Homo sapiens: one gene and its partners. The protein of the gene in region 2 interacts with the protein of the main gene of each other region in a biochemical or structural test. Each region holds a gene or a part of one and is shown on either strand. Other genes may lie near its edges.

What was found.
Region 1: the proteins of PPP2CB (region 2) and TIPRL form a complex in vitro, tested with the Homo sapiens proteins (one study listed by BioGRID).
Region 3: the proteins of PPP2CB (region 2) and ESPL1 form a complex in vitro, tested with the Homo sapiens proteins (one study listed by BioGRID).
Region 4: the proteins of PPP2CB (region 2) and AXIN2 form a complex in vitro, tested with the Homo sapiens proteins (one study listed by IntAct).

Annotation. Positions count from the first base shown.
Region 1 is NC_000001.11:168,181,942-168,188,977, reverse strand, and holds part of TIPRL (TIP41-like protein), read right to left. Parts: intron 5,077-7,036; coding exon 4,897-5,076; intron 4,200-4,896; coding exon 4,100-4,199; intron 1-4,099. UniProt on the Homo sapiens protein: May be a allosteric regulator of serine/threonine-protein phosphatase 2A (PP2A). Isoform 1 inhibits catalytic activity of the PP2A(D) core complex in vitro. The PP2A(C):TIPRL complex does not show phosphatase activity.
Region 2 is NC_000008.11:30,785,094-30,788,832, forward strand, and holds the end of PPP2CB (serine/threonine-protein phosphatase 2A catalytic subunit beta isoform), read right to left. Parts: intron 1,215-3,739; coding exon 1,142-1,214; 3' UTR 523-1,141; downstream 1-522.
Region 3 is NC_000012.12:53,278,280-53,285,315, reverse strand, and holds part of ESPL1 (separin), read right to left. Parts: intron 5,585-7,036; coding exon 5,450-5,584; intron 3,810-5,449; coding exon 3,690-3,809; intron 3,053-3,689; coding exon 2,881-3,052; intron 2,188-2,880; coding exon 2,059-2,187; intron 1,935-2,058; coding exon 1,778-1,934; intron 1,259-1,777; coding exon 1,149-1,258; intron 1-1,148. UniProt on the Homo sapiens protein: Caspase-like protease, which plays a central role in the chromosome segregation by cleaving the SCC1/RAD21 subunit of the cohesin complex at the onset of anaphase. During most of the cell cycle, it is inactivated by different mechanisms.
Region 4 is NC_000017.11:65,530,648-65,537,683, reverse strand, and holds part of AXIN2 (axin-2), read left to right. Parts: coding exon 1-360; intron 361-620; coding exon 621-815; intron 816-1,130; coding exon 1,131-1,364; intron 1,365-1,962; coding exon 1,963-2,058; intron 2,059-3,604; coding exon 3,605-3,772; intron 3,773-7,036. UniProt on the Homo sapiens protein: Inhibitor of the Wnt signaling pathway. Down-regulates beta-catenin. Probably facilitate the phosphorylation of beta-catenin and APC by GSK3B.

The DNA of each region.
Region 1 (7,036 bases), on a different chromosome or scaffold from region 2:
ACAGAGTCTCGCTCTGTTGCCCAGGCTGGAATGCAGTGGCACCATTTCAGTTCACTGCAACCTCCAGCTCCTGGGTTCAACCAATTCTTGTGCCTCAGCCTCCCAAGTAGCGAGGATTACACACACATGCCACAACGCTTGGCTAATTTTTTTGTGTTTTTAGTAGATACAGGGTTTTGCCATGTTGGCCAGGCTGGTCTCGAACTCCTGACCTCAGGTGTTCCGCCTGCCTCGGCCTCCTAAAGTATTGGGATTCAGGTATGAGCCACTGTGCCCAGCCTCAGAGCTTCTTATCTGCAGGCCCAGTACACCTCAAACTCTGGTCCTAGACCAAGGCAGGCAAACTAAGACATGCAGCTCACATCTGCCCTGTTACCTATTTTTATGGGCTGCAAGCTAATAATGGCTAAATAATTGGAGAAAAAAAATCAAAAGAAAAATATTTCATGACACATAAAAATTACATGAAATTCAAATTTCACTGTCCATAAAGTTTTATTAAAGCATAGCCATGCCCATTCATTTATATATTGTCTATGAGTGATTTAGACTATGATAGCACAGCTGAGTTGCTGCAACAGAGACTCTAAGGCCCACAAAGCCTAAAATATTTACGTCTGACTCTTTACAGAAGAAGTTTGCAGAGCTCTGTCCTTGACTATGAATATTCTCGAGCGCCTGTCAGAACTAAACAAAAATCCTCTCTGAAGGAAAACACCATCATCCTAGAACTGAAATGAAAATAAAGAGGCAAATTAGAAGCCTAGATGTCATAACCCAGAACCAACTGAAATAAAAGACACTAGGGATTCCAGAGGTGATTGAAATTATTAGGCCTTAGTCCATTTGGGCTGCTATTTAATATAATAATATACCATAGATAATATATCTACTTTTATTCTAGGTATTACAATATTAACTTAGGTTCCCTAATACTTGATATACTATATTATCATAGTAACAGCTGCCATTTATTGAGATCTTACTGCAAAACACACACTGTTTTGAGATAGGGTGTCGCTCTGTCACCCAGGCTGGAGTACAGTGGCACAATCACAGCTCACTGCAGCCTCGCCTTCCTGGGCTCAACTGATTCTCCCACCTCAGCCTCCTGAGTAGCTGGGACTATAGACACGTGCCACCAGACCCGCCAATTTTTCTATTTTTTGTAGAGATGGGGTTTCACCATGTTGCCCAGACTGGTCTTGAACTCCTGAGCTCAAGTGATCCATCTCAGCCTCCCAAAGTGCTGGGACTACAGGCATGAGCCACTACACCCAGCCTACATACATAATTTTATTTCCTACTTCACAACTAGTATTACCCTAGTTTAACAAAGTGACTGAAACAAGGCTAAGTAAGACTAAATTACTTTTCCAAGCTGGCAAATGATGGTGCTGGGATTTTGAACCCAGATCTGTGTTTTGCCAAAGCCTGAGCTCATTACCACCAGTGAGTGGGTAATCACATTGACATTTATCAGCAACACCTCAGAACAAATCACATTATAGGCTGAAGTATCAATAGGAGAGTACTGAACAAATGCTTTTTGCCTTCTACTACTCTCACACTCCTTGTTTGTACAGCTGTGGTTCTCACTTGGTCACACCTAATGCTGCTTCATAACCTCCAGGAGGCTTTTCCTAAGTCAGTCCACAAAGTAAGTCATCATCATTATTGTATGGGTTTAAAACAAGTTCCCATTTCCTCACTCCTGGCAATGAAATATTAAATGGTCTCTACAAAGTTTTTCAATCAGAAGAGAGGAGGGAGGAGAACACTAATCTATGAAGTAGTATAAGGGACTAAAATAACCTTGCTCTCCCATTAGACTGTAAAGGAGGAATTTTTGTCTGCTCTGCTGTATCCAAGGCTCCTAGCATTAGTGCCTGGCATAGAGCAAGAGCTCAAGAAATATCTGTTGAATGAATGAATGAGTTTTTTCCTGGAAGCACAGAAAAATAGTTAAAGCTTGGACTGTAATAATAGCAGAAACTGAAGATAACAATCATTAAGTTCCTGCTATGAACTTTTATCTTCATGAGACTCTAAAAATTTCTGCAGAGAAAAGGGGCCCAGACACAACACTATCTTCTTAACATTTCTGCCTAAGCACCAACATATGATATCAGGTTTCCTTGTTTTGAGATGGAGTCTCACTCTGAAGCCCAGGTTGGAGCACTGTGGCGTGATCTTGGCTCACTGCAACTCTGCCTCCTGGGTTCAAGCAATTCTCCTGCCTCAGCCTCCCCAGTCTCCAGCTCCTAACCTCAGGTGATCTGCCTGCCTCGGCCTCCCAAAGTGCTGGGATTACAGGTGTGAACCACTGTGCCCGGATGACATAGGGTTTCCAATAGCTACTTTTAATATAAATATTTCAGGTTACGCTGAAATAAATTCATTCTATATAATAGTCTGTGATATTTAGAGACATTCAACCTAAACCAAATTTGCTTTATTTTATTTTACTTATTGTTTTTCTGAAACAGAGCCTTTCTCTGTTGCCCAGGCTAGAGTGCAGTGGCGTGATCTCGGATCACTGCAACCTCTACCTCCTGGGTTCAAGTGATTCTCCTGCCTCAACCTCCCAAGTAGCTGGGATTACAGACACACGCCACCAGGCCTGGCTAATTTTTACATTTTTAGTAGAGGTGCGGTCTCACTATGTTGGCCAAGCTGGTCTCGAACTCCTGACCTCAAGTAATCTGCCCTCCTTGGCCTCGCAAAGTGCTGGGATTACAGGCGTGAGCCATTGAGCCCAGCCCAGATTTGCTTCCTTTCAGTCATACTATAAGATTTCAAAATGCAGCTAACTTCACAATATAAGACCTACCAATTCCATCTTCCTAGCGTTATTTACCATGAATCTCTCTCTTTTTTTTTTTTTTTTTTTTTTTTTTTTTGAGACGGAGTCTCGCTCTGTCGCCCAGGCTGGAGTGCAGTAGTGTGATCTCAGCTCACTGCAACCTCTGCCTCCCGGGTTCAAGCAATTCTCCTGCCTCAGCCTCCCGAGTAGCTGGGACTACAGGCATGCTCCACCATGCCTGGCTAAATTTTGTATTTTTAGTAGAGATGGGGTTTCACCATGTTGACCAGGCTGGTGTTGAACTCCTGACTTCATGATCCACCCACTTTGGCCTCCCAAAGTGCTGGGATTACAGGCGTGAGCCACTGCACCTGGCCGAATCTCTTCTTTTTTTTTTTTTTTGAGACAGAGTCTCACTCTGTCACCCAGGCTGGAGTGCAGTGGCGCGATCTTGGCCCACTGCAACCTCCACCTCCCGGGTTCAAGCAATTCTCCTCCCTCAGCCTCCTGAGTAGCTGGTATTACAGGTGTGCGCCACCACACCCAGCTAATTTTTTTTTTTTAATAGACAAGGGGTTTCACCATGTTGGTCAGGCTAGTCTCGAGCTCCTGACCTCGTGATCTGCCTGCCTCGGCCTCTCAAAGTGCTGGGATTACAGGCGTGAGCCACTGCGCCTGGCCCCAATCTCTTCTCAAGCAGGGCTTACACACACAGGACTTAATACTAATATAGAGCTTTAGAATTTATTGAGAGCTTCCCATAAATTATTTCACATCAAAACTCTGCTTTGAGGTAGATATTTCTGTTTACCCAATTTATTGATAAAACTGAGACTCAAATTAAGTAACTTCCTAAAGTCATTTCAGGTTCATACTCAGGGCAGACAGGGCATAAACCTACTTTGTCTAACCAGAAGTTCTTTTTGCTCATATATTTGTTCATCTATAAACTTGTGAGCTACAAGCTAGCAGGTTCTGTCTAAATCATGTAATACATTACCAAGGCCCGAAACACATTTTAATGTTTCTTGATAGTGATAATGATAACAACAAGGCCGTCTGCCGTTGCCACCAACTACACTTTTAAAAATAAATTTTTCCACTAATGCCGTCTTTTATTTTCTACTGATAAGTCAACAAGCAAAACCCCCTCACATTAGGTTCTGAGGAATGCCACAACAGAAAACAAGGACGATAAAAATAGTTGCAAAAAATAACCCGTTACTAGAAAGTTCTAATGCTCAGACTGTCCAAGACAATCAATGACTCATGAAAGAAAAAAGTAAGATTTACCTTTAACTTAAGAGATTCTCCAAGTAAGGTTCCCTTATAATCTGTTGTATAGGTCCAATCATATGGTTTAATAACCTCTTTGGAGTGTTCACCCTCCGTCCTCAAATACCAAAATGAGAAGGATCAGATTCAGTGATGCAGAATAGAGATTATCTGTATTTATATATCACATCAAATTATATTCTATAATAACATATCCTATTAAATATATACACTTGTTATAATTCACCAGTACAAGGTTTTTCTTACAGTTTTTCTGCATTTATTATTTAACTTGTCATGTACTGATGTAGTCTTTTCAATTAGTCTGTATACAGCCTGAGGACATGGTTTAAAGGTTTATACTTATTTGTATCATCTAAGGTACTTAGTACATATTAGGCACAAAGTAAATAATTGCTGATTTGACTATCAAAGAAAAACATGTTGTCTTAATTTCAATGCTTCTCAAATAGGGTATTTATTAAGCATATCATAAGTAAACATTTTTTCTTAAAAACAGGAACATTAAGTATAGCCTACTGCCTCTTCAGTAAGGAACACTGAAAAATCGAAAACGTACATAGCTCAGCTCAGTTGTAATTCACTTTAACAAGTATTCAAGCAGTGGGGTAATTAACTTCCATTTTTATGTCTGAGAAAAACGAATTCTAGAATGATACAACTCTCAAGTTTAATAATACCAGCCCTTCATTCTAACAACACACACGTATCATTACTGAATATTTTTTCAAGTCTTTTCTCTTTTGTTTAACCTAATTACCTTTTTTGTTTAACCTAATTGACCGGATTCTCACCTGCTTTCTTGCCACTCTTCAGCACAGGCCACTTTAAGCATTCCTTGGTAGTTGTTTACACATCTTAACGCATCTGTAGCATTGAACTCAATTCCAAAGCCAGACCCATGCTGGATTCTTAAAACGTTGTCTCCAAACATCATTTCAGGGAGAGATGGCATATGTAATTCATCGGCTAATCTATACGTAACCAAAAGTCGGGTGAGATAATTTTATATCGCTGTTGGCATTTTTGTTTCTTTTCCATCCCAACAGAATTCTTCCTACTTGCTGAATGAGTTACACAGCACATGATTTAATCAATATGATATATTTGCAAGGTCTATAAAATGCTTTCATCATCCATTCTTTCATCATCATATGGCACTGTACTAAGTAGTGGGCTAAATAAGATAAATATACAAATACGTAATATAATAGCTTATTATACTACTATAATATATAGCACACAGATATTACTATAATATATATCATGAGGGTATGAAGAAAAGATAGCAAAGCAATTAAAGATACTGTCTCTTGTAGGAAAATAATTTTTCCATTAAAATTCTCAATTGTTAAAAGTTTCAAAACGTGGTGATGAAAAAAGCAAAAGCACCTGACACTGATGAGGGAACTCAGCACTTGCCTACACAGACTTTCAGAAGGATTGTGTCAATTTACATTTCACCCTGGGGCAACAATCAAGCAAAAAAAAAAAAAAATCACAGGAATTTAACATAATTTACACACTTATGACCCAAAGTATCAGTTTTAGAATACCTGTACTAAAGAATAATTCCAAGTACAGAAAAATATTATACACATTAATACTTATAATGGCTTTACTTATAATCATGAAAAAGAAATACTCTGAATGTTTCATTATAAAGCAACAAATGATTATGCAAACCAAAGTATATCCATATGATGAAATATTATGGAACCATTACAAATGTTTAAAGAGAGACTATAATAATATGAAAAAATGCTTATGATAAAATAGTAAGAAAAAAACTGGACACACATTGTATATTTATTACATCTAAACGTGTATTTCTGTGTGCACATATCAGTGATCTAACTTTGAGGTGCAGGTCTTCAGGACTGCACAATGTTAACAATGGTCTTCAGGACTAACAATGTTAACTTTCATCATAATTTTAAGTAAAATTTATTCTTTGTTATTAGGAGATAGAAAATATTAAATACTTAAAAGATTAGATACAATAAACTGTAATTGGAATATATATTCCATAAGATTCCATAAAATAAGTTTTAACTTGAATAATGCATACCAAATGTGAAATAATATGTGAGTCTGTGGATTCTAACCAATATATCTGGAAAAATGTGGCAGTCCTATAAAATATTCCACTCATATATGTAAAAGAATCACTGTTACTAATTTACAGTCCTTCAGTGTTCTAAATATAGAGTTTCTTAAACATAGGCCAAAATGCCCTCTTTTTTTTTTGAGACGGAGTCTCGCTCTGTTGCCCAGGTTGGAGTGCAATGGCACGATCTTGGCTCACTGCAACTTCCGCCTCCCAGATTCAAGCAATCCTCCTGTTTCAGCCTTCCTAGGAGCTGGGATTACAGGCACGTGCCACCATGCCCGGCTAATTTTTGTATTTTTAGTAGAAACAGGGTTTCACCATGTTGGCCAGGCTGGTCTCGAACTCCTGACCTCAGGTGATCCACCTGCCTCGGTCTCCCAAAATGCTGGGATTACAGGCGTGAGTCACCGCGCCCGGCCTGAAAATGCCCTATTTCTAACATCATCAAGCTTCCCACTTAAAAACAGGTATAACTAGTTACAAGGAGAGAAGACAGGAAGCTCCTGTGGTTTTAAGGTGCCTTAAATATTCATTAGAAGAGCTTCTTTAATCCAATATTTTACCCAACCAATTTATTTAGCACCTTAGTGGTTTTTACAATCTATGATAATGCATCACAGAAAAATTTGGGATTGGTGAGGGTAAGTCTTCCTTTTGTCATATAAAAAAAGGCATTTTTTTTTTTTTGGCGGAGGGTGGGGGACGGAGTCTTACTCTGTCATCCAGGCTGGAGCACAGTGGCACGATCTCAGCGTACTGCAACCTCTACCTCCCAAGTTCAAGTGATTCTCGTGCCTCAGCCTTCAGAGTAGCTGGGATTA
Region 2 (3,739 bases):
CCTCCCAAAGCAATGGGATTACAGGCATGAGCCACCATGCCCAGCCTATTTTTTATTTTTTAGAGATGACATCTTGCTATGTTGCCCAGGCTGCCCTCAAGCTCTTGGGTTCAAGCCATCCTCCACCTCAGCCTCCTGAGTAGCTGGGACTATAGCCATGTCCCATTGCCCTGCTTTGAAAGATTTTATGTCGTTTCAAGATAGCAGGCCAGGTGTGATGGCACACATCTATAATCTCAAGAATTTGGCAGGGCCACTTGAGGCCAGGAGTTCAAGACCAGCCTGGGCAACATAACAAGATCCCGTCTCTACAAAATATTTTACAAATTAGCTGGGTGTGGTGGTATGTTGAGTGTAGTCCCAGCTACTCAGGAGGCTGAGGGAGGAGAATGGCTTGGGCTCAGGAGTTCAAGGTTGAAGTGAGCTATGACTGTGCCACTGCACTCCAGCCCAGATGACAGAGCAAGACCTGGTCTAGAAAAAATAAAGTTTTCATTTAATGCACAACACAATAAATGAATGTTTTTGTTTAAAATGAAAAGTTTATTTGCTGAGTACACCAAATAGGATGCAAGCACTGTCATGACAAATATACAGAAATATGCAGATCAACATAAAACAGTAATTTAGTTTAAATGAAGGGAAATCTCTTTAAATGTTATGACAACATACTCCCAAGAAGAACCTTTTCTTCAGTTAAGTTAATTATACATTTCAATAAAATAAAGGATAATGGATTAGTGGAAGTTAGCTTGTGAATTTTTCTTAAAAATAAAACTCCAACTCTATTAATCCATGCCAGTTAAACACTATAACTAAAATTTCCAAATAAGCGCAAAAGGAGATGAAGCAGTTAGTTACCTTTTTTGCTTGAACAGTCCAAAGGAAAATGGTTACTATAAATACAGCAGGCAAACTGTTAGACTGACCTAGAACATAGTGTACTAAATTTCAGTCTCAAATTGTGCTAAATGCTCATCATTAGTATGGCACATTTGGTCCATGATGTGGTTTAATGCCAAGACAGATCCCAATTTGTTACAGAAACACATAGATTACTGTTGCTTTTTGTTTTTAAATACATATATTTTAAAAAGCCAGGTATACTTCCACATACAAAGGCAGGTTTCCCAGGAGAAATTTATAGGAAGTAGTCTGGGGTGCGCCGTGTAACATGAGGCTCACCACGACGAGGCGCTGGGTCAAATTGAAGGCTGTAAATGGCAAAAAAGGAAGCAAATAAAGGATCTGACTTTGCAAAGAAAACAAATGAATAAAGAACAAGACACTGTAGTAGAAACAGCAGTCCTGCTTTCCCACCATGACTACATCACTTACGGCTGGAATGGCCATGGGCAAATCACTGCAGATGCTCCCATTCCAACTAACTGCTTCATAGGGCTATGGTGAAAATTTAAGAAGACAGAATGTCTGGTTTGGTGCCTGGCATAACAATTTCTAAATGTTATTATTATTTAAAAGCTTAAATAATTAAAGATTAAATAATATCAAGTTTAAATAATTAAACAATAATTGTTTAATATTATTTAATAATAATAATAATATCACTTTTTTTTTTTTTTTTTTTGAGGCAGAGTCTTGCTCTGTCGCCCAGGCTGGAGTGCACTGGCACGATCTCGGCTTATTGCAAGCTCCGCCTCCTGGGTTCATACCATTCTCCTGCCTCAGCCTCCTGAGTAGCTGGGACTACAGGAACCCATTACCATGCCCGGCTAATTTTCTTATTTTTTTTTAGTAGAGACGGGGTTTCACCGTGTTAGCCAGGATGGTCTCATCTCCTGACCTCATGATCCACCCGCTTCGGCCTCCCAAAGTGCTGGGATTACAGGCGTGAGCCACCGCGCCAGGCCTAATATCACTATTTTCTTGAGTGTTTCTGGCTAGTGGATTTTTCCAATTATTTTTGTGCCTCTATTGAGATGATCATGTGTTTTTTAATCCCTTAATATTAATATGGTTTATTATATTGATTTTCATGTTTTGAACCAACCTAGCATTCCTGGGATAAATCCCACTTGCTCATGGTGTATAATCTTTTTACATATTGCTAGATCCAGGTTGCTGGTACGTATGTTGGAAAATTTTATATCTGTATTCGTAACAAATGCTGGTCTGTTTTTGCCTTTGTCTACTTTTGGTATCAAGGATAATAGTGCAGGTGTGACAGAATGAATGCAGTAGTCCTCCTCTTCTGTTTTTTGGAAGTGTTTGTGAAGGATTGGCATTAACTCGTTTTTATTTTTGAGACAGGGTCTCACTCTGTTGCCCAAGCTGGAGTGCAGTGGTGTGATCATGGCTCACTGTAGCCTCAACCTCCCTGGGCTCAGGTGATCCTCCCACTTCAGCTTCCTGAGTAGCTGAGACTATAGGCTGAGCCACCACACCAGGTTAATTTTTGTATTCTTTGTAGATACAGGGTTTTACCATGTTACCCAGGCTGATCTTGAATCCTGGGCTCAATCTGCCTGCCTTGGCTTCCCAAAGTGCTAGGATTACTGGTTAGAGCCACCGCACCTGGCCAATTCCTTTCTTTAAACATTTGGTGGACTTCATCAATGAAGCCAATTGGGCTTGGCCTTTTATTTGTGGGGAGTTTTAACTTTTTCACTCATTTATTTATATTCTTTTAAATTAAATAGGGACAAGGTCCTGCTATGTTGTCCAGGCTGGTCTCAAACTCCTAGTCTCAAGCAATCCTCTCAGCTTGGCCTCCCAAAGCTGGGATTTATAGGTGTGAGCCACCATGCTGGCTCAATATTTTCACATTTGAAAGGTCATTCAGATTTCATATTTCTTGAGTCAGTTTCAGTAGTTTCTTTTTAGGAATTAGTACGTTTTATCAAAGTTACTGAATTTGCTGGCATATAGTTATTTATTGTATTCCCTTATAATCCTTTTTATTTCAGTAAGGTCTCTAGTGATTTGGTAATGTGAGTCTTTACTCCTTTTTTTCTTGGCCAGTCTAGTTAAGGCTTTTCAAAGCATCAACTTTGGGTTTTGTTGATTTTTCTGTAATGATTTTCTACTGTTTGTTTATTTCTACTCTAAACCTCGTTTCATAAGCTTACATCAGGTTTAGTTTACTCTGCTTTTTCTAGGTCCTCAAGTATAAAGATAGGTTACTGATTTCAAATCTTCTTGTTTTTTTTTTTGTTTTTTTCTTTCTGAGACAGGGTCTTTGCTCTGTTGCCTAGGCTGTAGTGTAGTGCTGTGATCATAGCTCATTGCAGCCTTGATCAACTGGGCTCAAGTGATCCTCCATCTCAGCCTCCCATACAGCTGAGACTACAGGTGCTTGGCACCATACCTGGCTAATTTTTAAATTTTTTTGTAGAGACGGGGTCTCCCTATGTTGCCCAGGCTGGCCTCAAGTGATCCTCCTACTTTGGCTTCCCAAAGTGTTGGGATTACTTGTGTGAGCCACAGCATCCAGCCATGTTAATGATTTCTAATTTCATTTCCTTGTGTTTGGAGAATATCCTTTTAAGAATCTAATCTTCTTAAATTGCCTGAGGCATGTTTTACAGTCTAGCATATGACTATGTTTCATGTTTACTTGAGAGGAAAGTATTCTGCTGTTGTTGGGTGTTGTTTTACAGACATGAGGTATACAGTCAGTTTACAGTGTTGCTCAAGTCTTCTCCTGCCTTCATCTCCTGCCTAGTTGTTCTATCCAAGAGAAACAGTTTCTGTTGCTTAGTTTTTTCCTGTGTAGAGG
Region 3 (7,036 bases), on a different chromosome or scaffold from region 2:
AAACATAGACTTCTCAACTTTCTCATTTAACAAATGAAAATAATCTATGCTCCCACTCAGCTTTATGAGGTCTAGTGTGGGGCAAATGAAGTACTAGAAGTATATGTGATTGGGGAGACAAAATGTGCCATCAATGCAATGTTTTATTATTAGCTTCAGCCCTCCTGAGGATATGTTTGTGCTACTCAATACGGTAGCCACTAGCCATGTGGCTATTGAGCACATGAAGTGTGGCTAGTGTGACTGAGGACTGAATTCTAAATATTATCTTTCTTTCTTTCTTTCTTCTTTTTTTTTTTTTTTTTGAGTCAGAGTCTCGCACTGTCACCCGGGCTGGAGTGCAATGGTGCAATCTTCCTCACTGCAACCTCCGCCTCCCAGGTTCAAGCTATTCTCCTGCCTCAGCCTTCTGAGTAGCTGGGATTACAGGTGCCCGCCACCATGCCTGGCTAATTTTTGTATTATTAGTAGAGATGGGGTTTCACTTTGTTGGCCAGGCTGGTCTTGAACTCCTGACCCCATGATCCGCCTGCCTCAGCCTCCCAAAGTGCTAGGATTACAGGCATGAGCCACCGAGCCCGGCCCTAAATATTATCTAAATCAAATTTAAATAGCCAAAATGTATTAGGAAGCACTGAAAACTAGAACTAGGGTAAGTCTGGGACAGGCTCTCTGAAAGAGGGAGACCAATGGTTGGACTAAAGTCAAGGGAATGTTGCCCTGGGACCAGAAGTCAGTATCTGATTAAAAAGGGAACAAAGGCCGGGAGCGGTGGCTCATGCCTGTAATCCCAGCACTTTAGGAGGCCGAGGCGGGTGGATCACCTGAGGTCAGGAGTTCGAGACCAGCCTGGCCAACATAGTGAAACCTCATCTCTACTACAAATAAAAAAAATTATCCGGGTGTGGTGGCGCATGCCTGTAGTCCCAGCTACTTGGGAGGCTGAAGCAGGAGAATCACCTGAACCTAGGAGGCAGGAGGCAGGGGTTGCAGTGAGCCAAGATCACGCCACTGCACTCCAGCCTGGGTAATAAAGTGAGACTCTGTCTCAAAAATAAAAAAAGGCAACGAAACCTTTACATAGAAAGATGTGCTGTAGTGTGTGTCATTTCAGCACCGCCTATGGTCATGGGGACATGGCTGCTCACCTGTGCAAGACTCAAGCAAGAACAGAACCTGCTGCAGGTCCGACTGACAGAGATCAATGTCATTGCGGGCCAGCTCCAGCTCGCCCTTCAGCACCAGGAACAGGGCACACCTTGTTGAGAGAGGAGAGGAGAACCAATCAGAGGAATCCTTTGTTTTCCTGGAGAGTCTTTCTCTTTGCCTCTTTCCCAGGCCAAGCTACCTGAGTCCTTCCCTGCCTCCAAAAGGCATTCACTCCCTTAAGCTGACTTAAAGGCTCCCTGGGGAAAACCCTCTACACTTCTCTCTAATCCCAACTCTCCTTGTGCCTTGGGACAGGATTTCCCAAACTGCATTCCTCAATAAAAGAATCCTGTGGGAAAACATTCTTAGGGAAACACTGTACACTAGATCTCCCTTTTGGAGATTTGCAAGGCACATCCGCATACTGAAGGACACGAGAGTCCTACAGGAAATAAAAACATCTAACCTTGATTAACTCAGCATTTCCCACTTATTTAGCTGTGGAATGCCTTTTTCCACGAATGTATCTAAACATAGCATGTAATCTGTGGAACAGTTTGGAATCCATGTTCAAGGGTGCATGGCACTTTGGTGCCATCATTGCCATATCCTCTGGCCCTGTACTTACTGGCGTGGTATCTGCAGCTTTGTTGTAAGTTTTAGGGCCTCCAAGCAAAAGGCCTTGGCTTCACTCACACTACCCAGGCGGCCCAGGTGGCAGACCAGCTTCTCTGAGCAGCTCAGCACCTCTGAAAGAACCTGCCATTTTTGTACCAGATTTTCACCTGTAGCAAAAGAGACAAGACCACCATCACTCAGCCACAGTGTGGATCCTCTGGAGAAAAAACCGCAGCCCTCTCACATAGCCTGTCCATTCCAAGAGGGCCCTGCTGTCCTCCCCAGACTCACCATAGTCCAAAAACGATGTCTCCACAGCTGCTTTCTGAGTTGAGAGAATGTCACTGCCCATCAGCAGGAGGATGATGCTTCGGAGGAGCTTATGGGAGTCTATGAGAGCTATCTCAGGTGTCTGCCAGCCTGTGGTGGGTGGGGTGAAAAAGGGAGAAGATGCAGCCAGAACTTCACCACTTTTAGCTACTAAGGCAGCAAAGCCTGCTTCCCATGCTTCCTTCTGCATTAAGGCAGGCAGAGCTAATCAATCTCATAACTCCTTCCCTCTGAGATCCCCTGGGGTCTCAGAATCCTTTCAGCTGGCTGGGCGCAGTGGCCCAAGCCTGTAATCCCAGCATTTTGGGAGGCTGAGGCAGACGGATCACCCGAGGTCAGGAGTTTGAGACCAGCCTGGCCAACATGGTGAAACCCCACCTCTACTAATAATACAAAAATTAGTCGGGCGTAGTGGCGCATGCCAGTAATCCCAGCTACTCAGGAGGTTGAGGCAGGAGAATCGTTTGAACCCAGGAGGCAGAGGTTGCAGTGAGCTGAGATTGCACCATTGCACTCCAGCCTGGGTGACAACAGCGAAACTCCGTCTTAGAAAAAAAAGAAAAGAAAAAAAAATCCTTTCAGCCTAGTATTCCAGGCAGTCACCAATTGTTTAGAGTCAGCAGGCAAACTGAAACCCATCTGCTATCCCAGGCCTACTCTGTGCAGGTTCTAGGTAGGCTGGGCCACATAGTTAGCCAGCAGAGGGGATGAGGTTTGAGAAGAGCTGACAGCAGACAGACCATACATGTCATCCAAGGGGGGCCATCCACCCTATTCTTTCACCTTGGGCACAGAGCTGCTCCCACAGGGAGTGTGAGAGGTTGTTTGACGGGAGGCTAAGGTAAGCTGCCACCAGCTGCAGGACCTGGACACGCAGCAAGTACCAAGCCTTGGAGGACTTCTGGAGGGCAGGATCCCGAAGCACAGACAGCAGCAGAGAGACACCCTTGGTCACCTGAAGGAGAGAAGGAGCCAGAGGAGGCAGTAAGGCAGTCAGGCACTCCAGAGCTTGAGAGGCCCTGGAGATTACGTGGCCCCATCCCTGAAGGCCCTGGGTATTAGAAAGATTTTAGAATTTTCTGAATATTTGCCTGGCTTTCGAGATCTCCCTGGACCTAGGCAGAATGTTCCTGACCCTGAGAAGCAGTAACAGTTCCTAGCTTTGCCCTCACCAGTGACTTGTCCGCCAATTTAGGAATGATAAAAACGTAGAGAAGAAACTAGAGCATGAGAAGGTAGAAGACGTGCCCAAGTCACACAACTAGTTTGGGAGAAAACTCAAGTCTTTGCCATCCCCTGGATTTCTAGTCCAGAGCTCCCATGCCTTCCCAGGATCACCATTGTCCCAGCTTTTCGTCACAGGACAGACTTTCCCCCTTGCCCCTGAAGAAGGAAAAGGACTGTATCTCTACCAGAGGAGGACTGGTGAGCAAATCGCTGGCGAGGGCAAGGCTAGGAAATATGCCTGCCTCTCAGGGTCAGGAACATACTGCCTAGCTCCAGGGAAATCTCAAAAGCCAGGCAAATATCAAGAAAATCCTAAATTCTTTCTAATACCCAGGGCCTTCGGAGTTTAAGAAAGTGAGAAATACCTTCTGGTGAGTCCAGTAGAGTTGACTTCGAAGCAGATCACAGGTCAGGGAAAGGAGCAGGTATGTGTCAGTAGTCTGATCGAGATGCTTCAGGCTCGATGCTGCCTCTTCCAGGTGTAACTAAGGAAGCAATCAGAGGGCACATGAGGAAAGGCAGCCAGGCTCTTCAAACAAAACTGGAGTAAATAAGGGTGGCCATGTGGCTCACACCTGTAATCCCAGCACTTTGGGAGGCCAAGGTGGGCGGATCACCTGAGGTCAGGAGTTCAAGACCAGCCTGGCCAACATGGTGACACCCCCATCTCTACTAAAAATACAAAAATTAGCCAGGTGTGGTGGCACGCGCCTGTAATCCCAGCTACTCGGGAGGCTGAGGCATGAGAATCACTTGAACCCGAGAGGCAGAGGTTGCAGTGAATGGAGATCGCGCCACTGCACTCCAGCCTGGGCAACAGAGTGAGACTCCGTCTCAAAAAAAAAAAAAAAAAAAAAGTGGAGTAAAGTATTTACAAGCAAAATGTTCAACATGTCCAATAAATATTACATTATTTCAGATATTATAATCTGCATAGGAGTTATTGATTCACTCTCTAAAATGTCCATTTAACACTTGGTTAACCACTTTTTTTTTTTTAGGACGGAGTTTCGCTCTTGTTGCCCAGGCTGGAGTGCAATGGTGTGATCTCAGCTCACCGCAACCTCCGCCTCCCGGGATCAAGTGCTCTCCTGTCTCAGCCTCCCAGGTAGCTGGGATTACGGGCATGCGCCACCATACCTGGCTAATTTTGTATTTTTAGTAGAGACGGGGTTTCTCCATGTTGGTCAGGCTGGTCTCCAACTCCTGACCTCAGGTGATCTGCCCACCTCAGCCTCCCAAAATGCTGGGATTACACGTGTGAGCCACTGCGCTCAGCCTGGTTAACCACTTTTAGATTAAAGCTATATACAGAGTAAGCAGTAGCTGGGCACGGTGGCTCATGCCTGTATTATCAGTACTTTGGGAGGCTGAGGTGGGAGATCACTTGAGCCCAGGAGTTCAAGACCAGCCTGGGCAACATAGTGAGACTCTGTCTCTACAAAACATTTAAAAATTAGCCAGGTGTGGTGGCATGTACCTGTAGTCCCAGTTACTCGGGAGGGTGACGTGGAAGTGGAAATGGAAATGGAAATGGAAATGACACCACTAAAAACAGAATGCTATAAACAGAATGATGTCTTCTGTTTCCAAAGTCAATATACTAGAGTGATGCAAAAATAGTAAGAGTGAGATATTTTGTGGCAAAGTTATCCAGGGGTAAACACTGCAGCCGTAAGCGCTGGCAAGTATTATTGGGGCAAAAGGGAACAGGGTTAAGCAGGAAAGAGATTACATCACACCTGTGCCTACCAGTGGTCGTTAAGAAGACGAAGTAGAAAAGGGAGAAACTGGAGGCAAGGAGACCAACCAGGAGACACTGTGATAGCTTTACATGAGCAATGAAGCATCAACTAGGGCAACAGAACCAGTTAGGAAATACAAGACTGGCGGTAGGTTCCTGCAGCAGTCTGTAAACTTAATGAACAACTGGTTTTGCAGGAAGGACAAAGATGACTCCCCTTCTTACAGCTGCCTCCAACTGCTCCACACTCCACAATTCTCCAGCCAGTTGTGGTGGTAAAAGGCCGAGAAGCTGCCCCTTTGATATCCTGTCTTCTCAGAGGTGGGCCTCTAAAGCTACGGGCCCCCTGCAGTCCCCAGACTAGGCTGGTTGGGCACTCACCTGGGCATAGCTGGGACAGCCGAGGGTCAGGAGGAGCTGGGTGATGTGGCAGGAGGAGCCAGCTGCCTTCGAGTGGTCCTTCAGTCTCTCAGAGACAATCCGTAGCAGCAGGAGGACCTCCAGAGCCTGCATGGGCTGGTCAGCAGAAGCAGCCAAGTTTACTCCACCCCTGCTCAAGCCTCTATTTCTACCCTCTGCTCCCCAGCCCTTTGGGACCTTGGACTGTAGTTTGACCTCAGGGCCTGGGTGGAATGTAGTTACCCAGATGAAGCAATCATCACCCCACCCCTACTGTTTTAAAGCCTAGATGCCATTCATCATCAATAGCCAGGATTTTCTGAGTTCTTACTATGTGCCAGGCACTGTGCCCAGGCTTACATGCATCAGTGCATTTAACCTTCATAACAAGTCTAATCCCAATTTTACAGTACAGGAAGCTAAGACTCACATGGGTTAAGTTGCTTGTCTAAGTTCATATAACAGGTATGTGGCAGAACCAAGTCTCAAATCTAGGGCTGAGGTAGCTTCCCCTGCTAGAAATATGGTTTAATAGCTCATAGTTAACAGCATGTATAAAGGCTTTTTGTTTGTTTGTTTGTTTCCTAATGTGGAGTCTAGGGTAGAGCTTCAGGAATTTTGTGAAACTCCCTGAAATAAGAATGTACATGGCCTTATAGGCCAGGCACAGTGGCTCATGCCTGTAACCCCAGCACTTTGAAAGGCTGAGGCAGACGGGTCACCTGAGATCAGGAGTTCGAGATCAGCCTGGCCAACATAGTGAAACCCCATCTCTACCAATAATACAAAATTAGCAGGGTGTGGTGGTATGCGCCTGTAGTCCCAGCTACTCAGGAGGCTGAGTGAGCCAGGAGAATCGCTTGAACCCAGGAGGTGGAGGTTGCAGTGAGCTGAGATCACGCCACTGCACTCCAGCCTGGGTAACAGAGCAAGACTCTATCTCGGCGGGGGGGCGGGGCGGAAAGCTGGGTGCGGTGGCTCACGCCTGTAATCCCAGCACTTTGGGAGGCTGAGGCGGGTGGATCACCTGAGGAGATCGAGACCGGCCTGGCCAATATGGTGAAACCCTGTCTATACTAAAAATACAAAAAAGTAGCCAGGCGTGGTTGCGTGCCTGTAGTCCCAGCTACTCAGGAGGCTGAGGCAGGAGAATCACTTGAACCCAGATGGCGGAAGTTGCAGTGAGCCCAGATTGCGCCACTGCACTCCAGCCTGGGCGACAGAGTGAGACTCCATCTTGAAAAAAAAAAAGAAGGCACACATAAGAATGTAAGAATGTAAAATTGTGTCTAAAGGCATCTATGTATTTTTCTGATAGGTAACAAATCATCTAATAATTAAAGCTAACTTTTTTTTTTTTAATGAAATAGCGTGAAACAGCATCTTGCTCTGTCCCCCAGGATGGAGTGCAGTGGCGCGATCTTGGCTCACTGCAACCTCTACCTCCTGGCTCAAGGGATTCTCCTGCCTCAGCCACCTGAGTAGCTGGGATTACAGGCACATGCCACCGCACCGGGCTATATTTTTTTTATTTCTTGTAGAGACGGGGTTTCGCCGTGTTGCCCAGAC
Region 4 (7,036 bases), on a different chromosome or scaffold from region 2:
CTGCCAGTCTCCAGGCGTAGGCCGCTATAGCCCCCGCTCCCGCTCCCCGGACCACCACCACCACCACCATTCGCAGTACCACTCCCTGCTCCCGCCCGGTGGCAAGCTGCCTCCCGCGGCCGCCTCGCCGGGCGCCTGCCCCCTCCTCGGGGGCAAAGGCTTTGTGACCAAGCAGACGACGAAGCATGTCCACCACCACTACATCCACCACCATGCCGTCCCCAAGACCAAGGAGGAGATCGAGGCGGAGGCCACGCAGCGGGTGCACTGCTTCTGCCCTGGGGGCAGCGAGTATTACTGCTACTCGAAATGCAAAAGCCACTCCAAGGCTCCGGAAACCATGCCCAGCGAGCAGTTTGGGTAAGTGCCGGGCGGACCGCAGTGTCCCGTGTGGGGCTTGTCTCCCAGCCAGGTCCATGGGCAGGTGTGAGGTGGGAGCCGCATTACAGGCATTTAGTTTCTAAGAGGGCGGCAGAGTGCACGGCCGGGTGAGGGTGCGGGGAGCAGGTGCATGGGTCTTTCGTGTCACCAGCCCCCCGACTTGCTGAATTGTCTGATTCTAGGAGTCCCGGAGATTTAACCGGGTCTCTGGGTTGGGTGTGGTTCTTGGTTCCCCACAGCGGCAGCAGAGGCAGTACCTTGCCCAAACGCAATGGGAAAGGCACGGAGCCGGGCCTGGCCCTGCCCGCCAGGGAAGGAGGGGCCCCCGGCGGAGCTGGGGCCCTGCAGCTTCCCCGGGAGGAAGGAGACAGGTCGCAGGATGTCTGGCAGTGGATGCTGGAGAGTGAGCGGCAGAGCAAGCCCAAGCCCCATAGGTAAACACCGCTTGCCGCCGCCGCGGCCGCGAGGGTCATGGGCACTCAGTACGGAGGTATTGTGGGAATGGCTGTTTTTGCAGTCCGCGGAATACAAATGTGACTATTTGCTCCTGCCATCTTAATATTAAACGTTGGACTGAGCAGACCACAAAAATGTCATGTTTTGGCACTGACCCCTGTTCATGTTATGGTAGTTTTTTTTTTAACTCTCTCTCTGAGCAGAATAGACAAGTTTCTATTGAAGTCACATTTTCCAGTTCTTCTAACCCAGTTTCTTTCCTTCTGTTTTCTCTCTGCTCATTCCTTGTTTAGTGCCCAAAGCACAAAAAAGGCCTACCCCTTGGAGTCTGCCCGCTCGTCTCCAGGCGAACGAGCCAGCCGGCACCATCTGTGGGGGGGCAACAGCGGGCACCCCCGCACCACCCCCCGTGCCCACCTGTTCACCCAGGACCCTGCGATGCCTCCCCTGACCCCACCCAACACGCTGGCTCAGCTGGAGGAGGCCTGTCGCAGGCTAGCTGAGGTGTCGAAGCCCCCAAAGCAGCGGTGAGTGGAAGTGAAGGGTCCTAGGTTGAGGCAGGGATTGGGTTTGGGTGGAGACCTGGTCTGTGGCTAATGGGGAGGGCCTCTCTTTCTGCCTGGGTCTCAAACCCTCCCATGAGAAGAAGAATTACTTATGGATGAGTAAGCTGCTGCTTTCCAGCTTCTAGAAATTGTTCCCTTCAGTTATGTTCATTCTACTAGAGTTAAGCCAGGATCTGTGAGGCAAGTCATGCCTAGAATTGGGAGAATGAATTTCAGCAATTGCTTACAAATCCCATTCCTTACAAATGTCTTGATTGTTTAAGGCTGGTTAGTTGAGTATATAAGAAGCTGTGAGATGGAGGATCAAGAGTCCTCAGCCCTTTGCTGGGGCTGAGAATGTCCCATCCTGGGCTCCCAGGGGGGCTTAGAATGGCTGTTCCAAGACGTCTTCCTGGCCTCTTCAGCCACTGTTAACCCAGGGTCTTGGTTGGGTCTCCGTAAGGATGGAAGTCGGGTTCGTGTCTCTTCAGGAGGCCAAATAGTAATTTTCTGTCTGCTTTTCAATTGCTCTGGGGACAACAGTGTACCTCTAAATCCCTCGCCCTGGCTGTGTCCTCAGGTGCTGTGTGGCCAGTCAGCAGAGGGACAGGAATCATTCGGCCACTGTTCAGACGGGAGCCACACCCTTCTCCAATCCAAGCCTGGCTCCAGAAGAGTGAGTGTCTTTACCTGACATTACTGAGATCTGCCGAGTGCTTTATGTTTCAGAATATTCGCTATCTGGAGTTTCATTTTCATGAAACTTTTTTTGGTTTTTAAAATCACTTTGATTTTAGCGCTAGTGATGAGGAACAGTAAACGTAGATGTTGCCATCCATGTCCTGCCGACAAATGCATCATAGCAAAAGTTTTTCTGGTCATACACAAATCAAAAGCTGGGACATGAAGCCATTAGCAGAAGTGTAGAAGGGACCTCAAATTCAGCTGGAAAAGTTGCCCCCATTCAACTTGCAATTTAGTAGTACTGGAAACATTTGTCACCCCTGAGCAGAAAGATCATTCTCCACTGTGGCAGAGGTGGAGGGGACCATCCTTGTGTTTTTGTTTGGAGAAGACAGAATATCTTCCCCCAAATTGGGCAGTGATTCTTTTTGTAAATTTAGTCTCTTTCAAAGTAGGTTGAGGAGCCTGCTCGTTTAATTACTGGATGGTGCAATTAAAAAGAAATCTGCTAAAGAGATCTAAAATGGTCTGTATCAAGTTTTCTTTCTTAGTGTCTTCATCCTGAGCAATGAGCAATGTTTGAAGTCCTCAATAGGCCACTGCCCTGGACCCTTTCATTGTTTCAATTGGTTGACCCTAAGTGTACCAGCTCTCTGGGTCTGGGCCAGCCACTTTTTTTTTTCTTTTTGAGACAGAGTCTCGCCCTGTTGCCCAGGCTGGAGTGCAGTGGCTTAATCTTGGCCCACTGCAGCCTCCGCCTCCTGGGTTCAGGCAGTTCTCCTGCCTCAGCCTCCCGAGTAGCTGGGATTGCAGGCGCCCACCACCACACCCAGCTCCTTTTTTGTATTGTTAGTAGAGACAGGGTTTCGCCATGTTGGCCAAGCTGGTCTCAAACTCCTGACCTCAAGTGATCCGCCCACCTCGGCCTCCCAAAGTGCTGGGATTACAGGCGTGAGCCACCACGCCCGGCCTAGCAGCCTTTTTTTCAAGCCATTCTACAAAATCTCAGAAGAAATGGGGAAATGGACATGACTGTGTGATAACCCCCATTAGTTGTTCTCATTCTGCTGGAATAAGGGGTGGGCTTTAGGCATTCTGAGATCATGCCATCCCAAAGGTGTCCTGCTCTGGGTTTGTCTCTTTAGCACTCTCCAATCCAGGTGAGACCCGGCATCTCTGTGATAATTTCTCTTCTCTCATCTTCTTGAGGAAGCACCCCATTTATGCCAGCCTGAAAGAGGCCGCCGTATACTTTCATTTGGTGGCGGTGGGGGAAATGATACCAATTTGTACAACCAAAAGGAAATCATCCTTTTCTGCATGCTGCATGCAGCACATGTGGGGTTGGACTGTGTGTCCCCCAGAGCTGCCTGACTCTGGGATGTGGGGCTCTGCCCCAGCCCCCACTTTGGGTTTACAATTGCAGCCCTAGTGTTTGGATACCCTGTCACTTATGCACATGTGCGCACGTGTGTGTTTGCTTTAGATGTGTGTCTGCTTTAAAATGCTAAACTTGTTCCATTCCATCTTATTTTCAGTCACAAAGAGCCAAAGAAACTGGCAGGTGTCCACGCGCTCCAGGCCAGTGAGTTGGTTGTCACTTACTTTTTCTGTGGGGAAGAAATTCCATACCGGAGGATGCTGAAGGCTCAGAGCTTGACCCTGGGCCACTTTAAAGAGCAGCTCAGCAAAAAGGGAAATTATAGGTAAGAGTCCTGTGGCTTTTTTCTGCTCTCAGTTTGTTTGCTCAGAACCAAGAGCCAGAGCCTGGAGCAGCTCCCCTGGCTGAGCAGACCTAGGTGGGGCAGGGTGGGAGGGGGCTCAGCAGGCGCTGGGGGAGGCTCCCTTCTCATTTCTTCTCTCCCCTCACCGCTAGCAGCAATAACGAAGCAGCAGCCGCAAGAGGGAGGCTGCGTGGAGGGTTCTCTGGGGGACCTGGCCAGGCTCTTTCCACCAGGTGAACCAGACTGAGGAGAGAAAAGGAGCAGCTGCTTGCACCGACAGGAGAGTGGGGCTCAGGCCACACTGCAGAGGCTTTACCTGCAATTGAGGGGCTTGTGGGCGAGTGGGGAGCAGGGAGCAAAAAGAGGGACAGGCACACTGATTAGGAGGGAGGGTCTGGAAGCGCCGCCCTACTGGCTTGAGTTTAGGAGAGACCCCCACATTGAAGGCTCCAAATAGTCAGGAACCATGCCTAGGAAAAGTCCCCCGTGTTTTTCTTACCCTGCCTTTCCACCTGAACAGCCTCCCTGGATTTTATGGGCCATTAGAAGCAGAGATGCGCCTTTGTCCATAACAAAGAAGGGGCTGGACCTGCGGGTGGGCACAGGGTGAATAGGGCAGTCTACTCCTCCTGTCCAGGCCTGGGCCCCGCTGCCTTCTCCCCTGCAGGGGCTTCAGGAAGGGAACTTCCTGGTCTCCTTACCTTGTCTGCAGAGTGGACGGAGGTGCCCTTGAGAAGGTCCATGCTGACTTTTTAGGGCCCTTGAGAGGGTTCAAGAGCTGAGGAGGATGAGGGCCAGCCCTAGGCCATTCCTTCTCTTGATCATTTCCCTCGTAAGGAGCAGGTGATGACTCTGCCTCAGTTCATCTGGAGTCCTCCCTTGCCCCTCTCCATGGCCTGCAGCCCAAGAGAATGTGTGGATTCTGCTCCAGTTCTGTCCCAGGTTTCCCAGGTTTAGGGCTCCAGGCTGGGACAAGGGTGAGACAGGGGCACCCTAGTTTAAGGAGGTGCTCACTCTGGGGTCTACACCCAAGACAGAGTTCCAACTCCTCAGCTGTGTGCTGTTGTCCCTGTGCCAGGACCACAGTCTATTCCCAGGTGTGAACCCGTTGCCGCCACCAGGGCCAGGGGTGTGAGTGGAAAACTCTGAATAGCACTTGGTAACCTGCCAGGTGGGCATGGGCTCCTGGACGGGGATGAGTCCACCTGCAGGGCTCTGAGACACCCTCCCCTCTAGAGCAGGCCTTGTATAGTTTTACCAGCCACCTTCATCTGGGAGTTAGTTTGGGCGGGGGCTCAAAGTGATTCTCTTTGGAGTGGGGAGGGGATGGAGGTTGGACTGAGCCCCTGGAGGTAACTGGCCAGCAGGGCGTGTTGCTGGGTCTGGATAGTCCCTTTTATACCTGGGCAGAGACAATTGTGAAAAGGTATCAAAGGGGTGGGGGAACAGGCCTGGCTGCTGCTGCTGCTGCTTTTATCTTGAAAAGACACAAGGTGAAACTAATGACACAAGTGTGTCCCTCTGGGGATTCATTTTGATCTTGGCTTTGTCTCGGCTGGACTTCGAGTGGAACTGCAGGTGACCTTGGAGAAGAGCCATGTGGCGCTGGCATAGGCTTGTGGGGAAAGTGCCTCCTTCAGCTGCTGTGGCCACATCTGGCTCTGATTTTTTTTTTTTCTCCCTGAGGCACAGTTAATAAGCCTGGCTTTGAAGCCCTGGCCTCCCCTTTAATGCACAAAGACTTGCACAAATGGTCAACTCTCCGATCCTCTCCAGTTCTTTCCTGAGTGGATCAGGCTGTGGGAAGGCCCTCCCAGCTGCCTTATCTCTGCAGGGCCTGAGCTAGACTCAGTGTCCTCCTGGGGTAGGACAGGGACACAGGGTGTCACGCCTCACCCTCCCAGCAGGGCTGGTGCTTCAACATCTCAATTTGTACAAATACATCCCCCCTTCAAAAAAATAAAAAAGACCCAGTGAGGTTGGGGCCGTGGAGCAGGGGTGGGAGGTGGGGGGGACCTGGGATGCGTTGAGTAATCTCAACATGGCAGGGGTTCAAAAAGCAAACAGTCCCTTCAGACGCGCCAGACGCTGTTGGTGCCAGATGTCAGAAGAAAGCAAAGTTTGCCACATGAAGCATGTTGCAGTGGAAAAGCCTGTTTCTTGGAGAAAATGAGGGCAGTGCAGTGTGTTTGAAGTCCTGGGGGTGGGGCTGAGAGAATGTGGCCTCTCTCCTCTCTGGAGGAGGTTGCAATTATGTAAAAGGTCGCTGCGTGTTTGCTCAGACATGCTGTGAAAGCCCAACTTGGTAAACCCTGGAGGGGTCGGAGCTGGGGCCAAAGGGGTCTGACGGAGGGTGGCGTTGGGATTTGAGCCTCTTATGTGGAGAAGTGACTTTTCCCCCCACTGTCCTGAGTCTCCTGTGCACAGAGCCCCTCCCCATTTTCTCACTGTCTCCTCTCACGCTCCCCCGAGAATTTTGACCCCTTGACATGACGTGTCTTCAGTGCTGCCTAGTCAGAGCCATGCCGTTGTTCACCCCACTGCATTAGCTGGGTCAGGAATGCTAAAAACAAAGAACCTTGACTAAACCCAGCTGTTCACTGTATTTAGCCTTATCTCCTACGAAAGTATTTGGCTTGCCTTTATTAAAGAGGGAAAAAATTGAGCTCTAACCAAGGGGAGTTAATTTTTTTTTTTTTAAAGGGAAAAGACAAAGCCCAACCATAACCCTGAGACACAATTAAATGCTTGAAAGGTTCTCCCATCCCCCCAGGGGACTGTGACCTTCCCTCTGTGAGTGGCCTTTATGGGCTGGAAATGACAGCTTGCAGGGGCAAGTTTAATCCCTCTGAGGGGTCTCCCTTGGCTGGGGACAGGGAAGGAAGAGGCCCTTGCTTAATTTCCTCGGAAGGGGTTTAGGGGTGGGCCTGGCCCAAGAGGACAGCAGTTGTTTCCGAATGTGGCACTCCTGAGAGGCCAGGCATTTGCATCTGTACAATTAAACAGCCTCAGAAGAAAGAACGCTGGGGAGGGATGAAAGGAGCCTTTAATCAACGGGCATAATAGAAGGGCCTTTGGTGTTTGACCCTGGAGGGATGGGATGGGAGAAGAGGCCTGGAAATGGGGAGAAGAGGGGAGGGCATCATGGGGCCAGTGCCGTCTGTTCGGCCCTGGGAAGCTGCGCTGGGCTGGCTTGCCTCCTGTGTGGCTGTGCCAGGGCCATCCAGGAGTGTTGCACTTGGGACC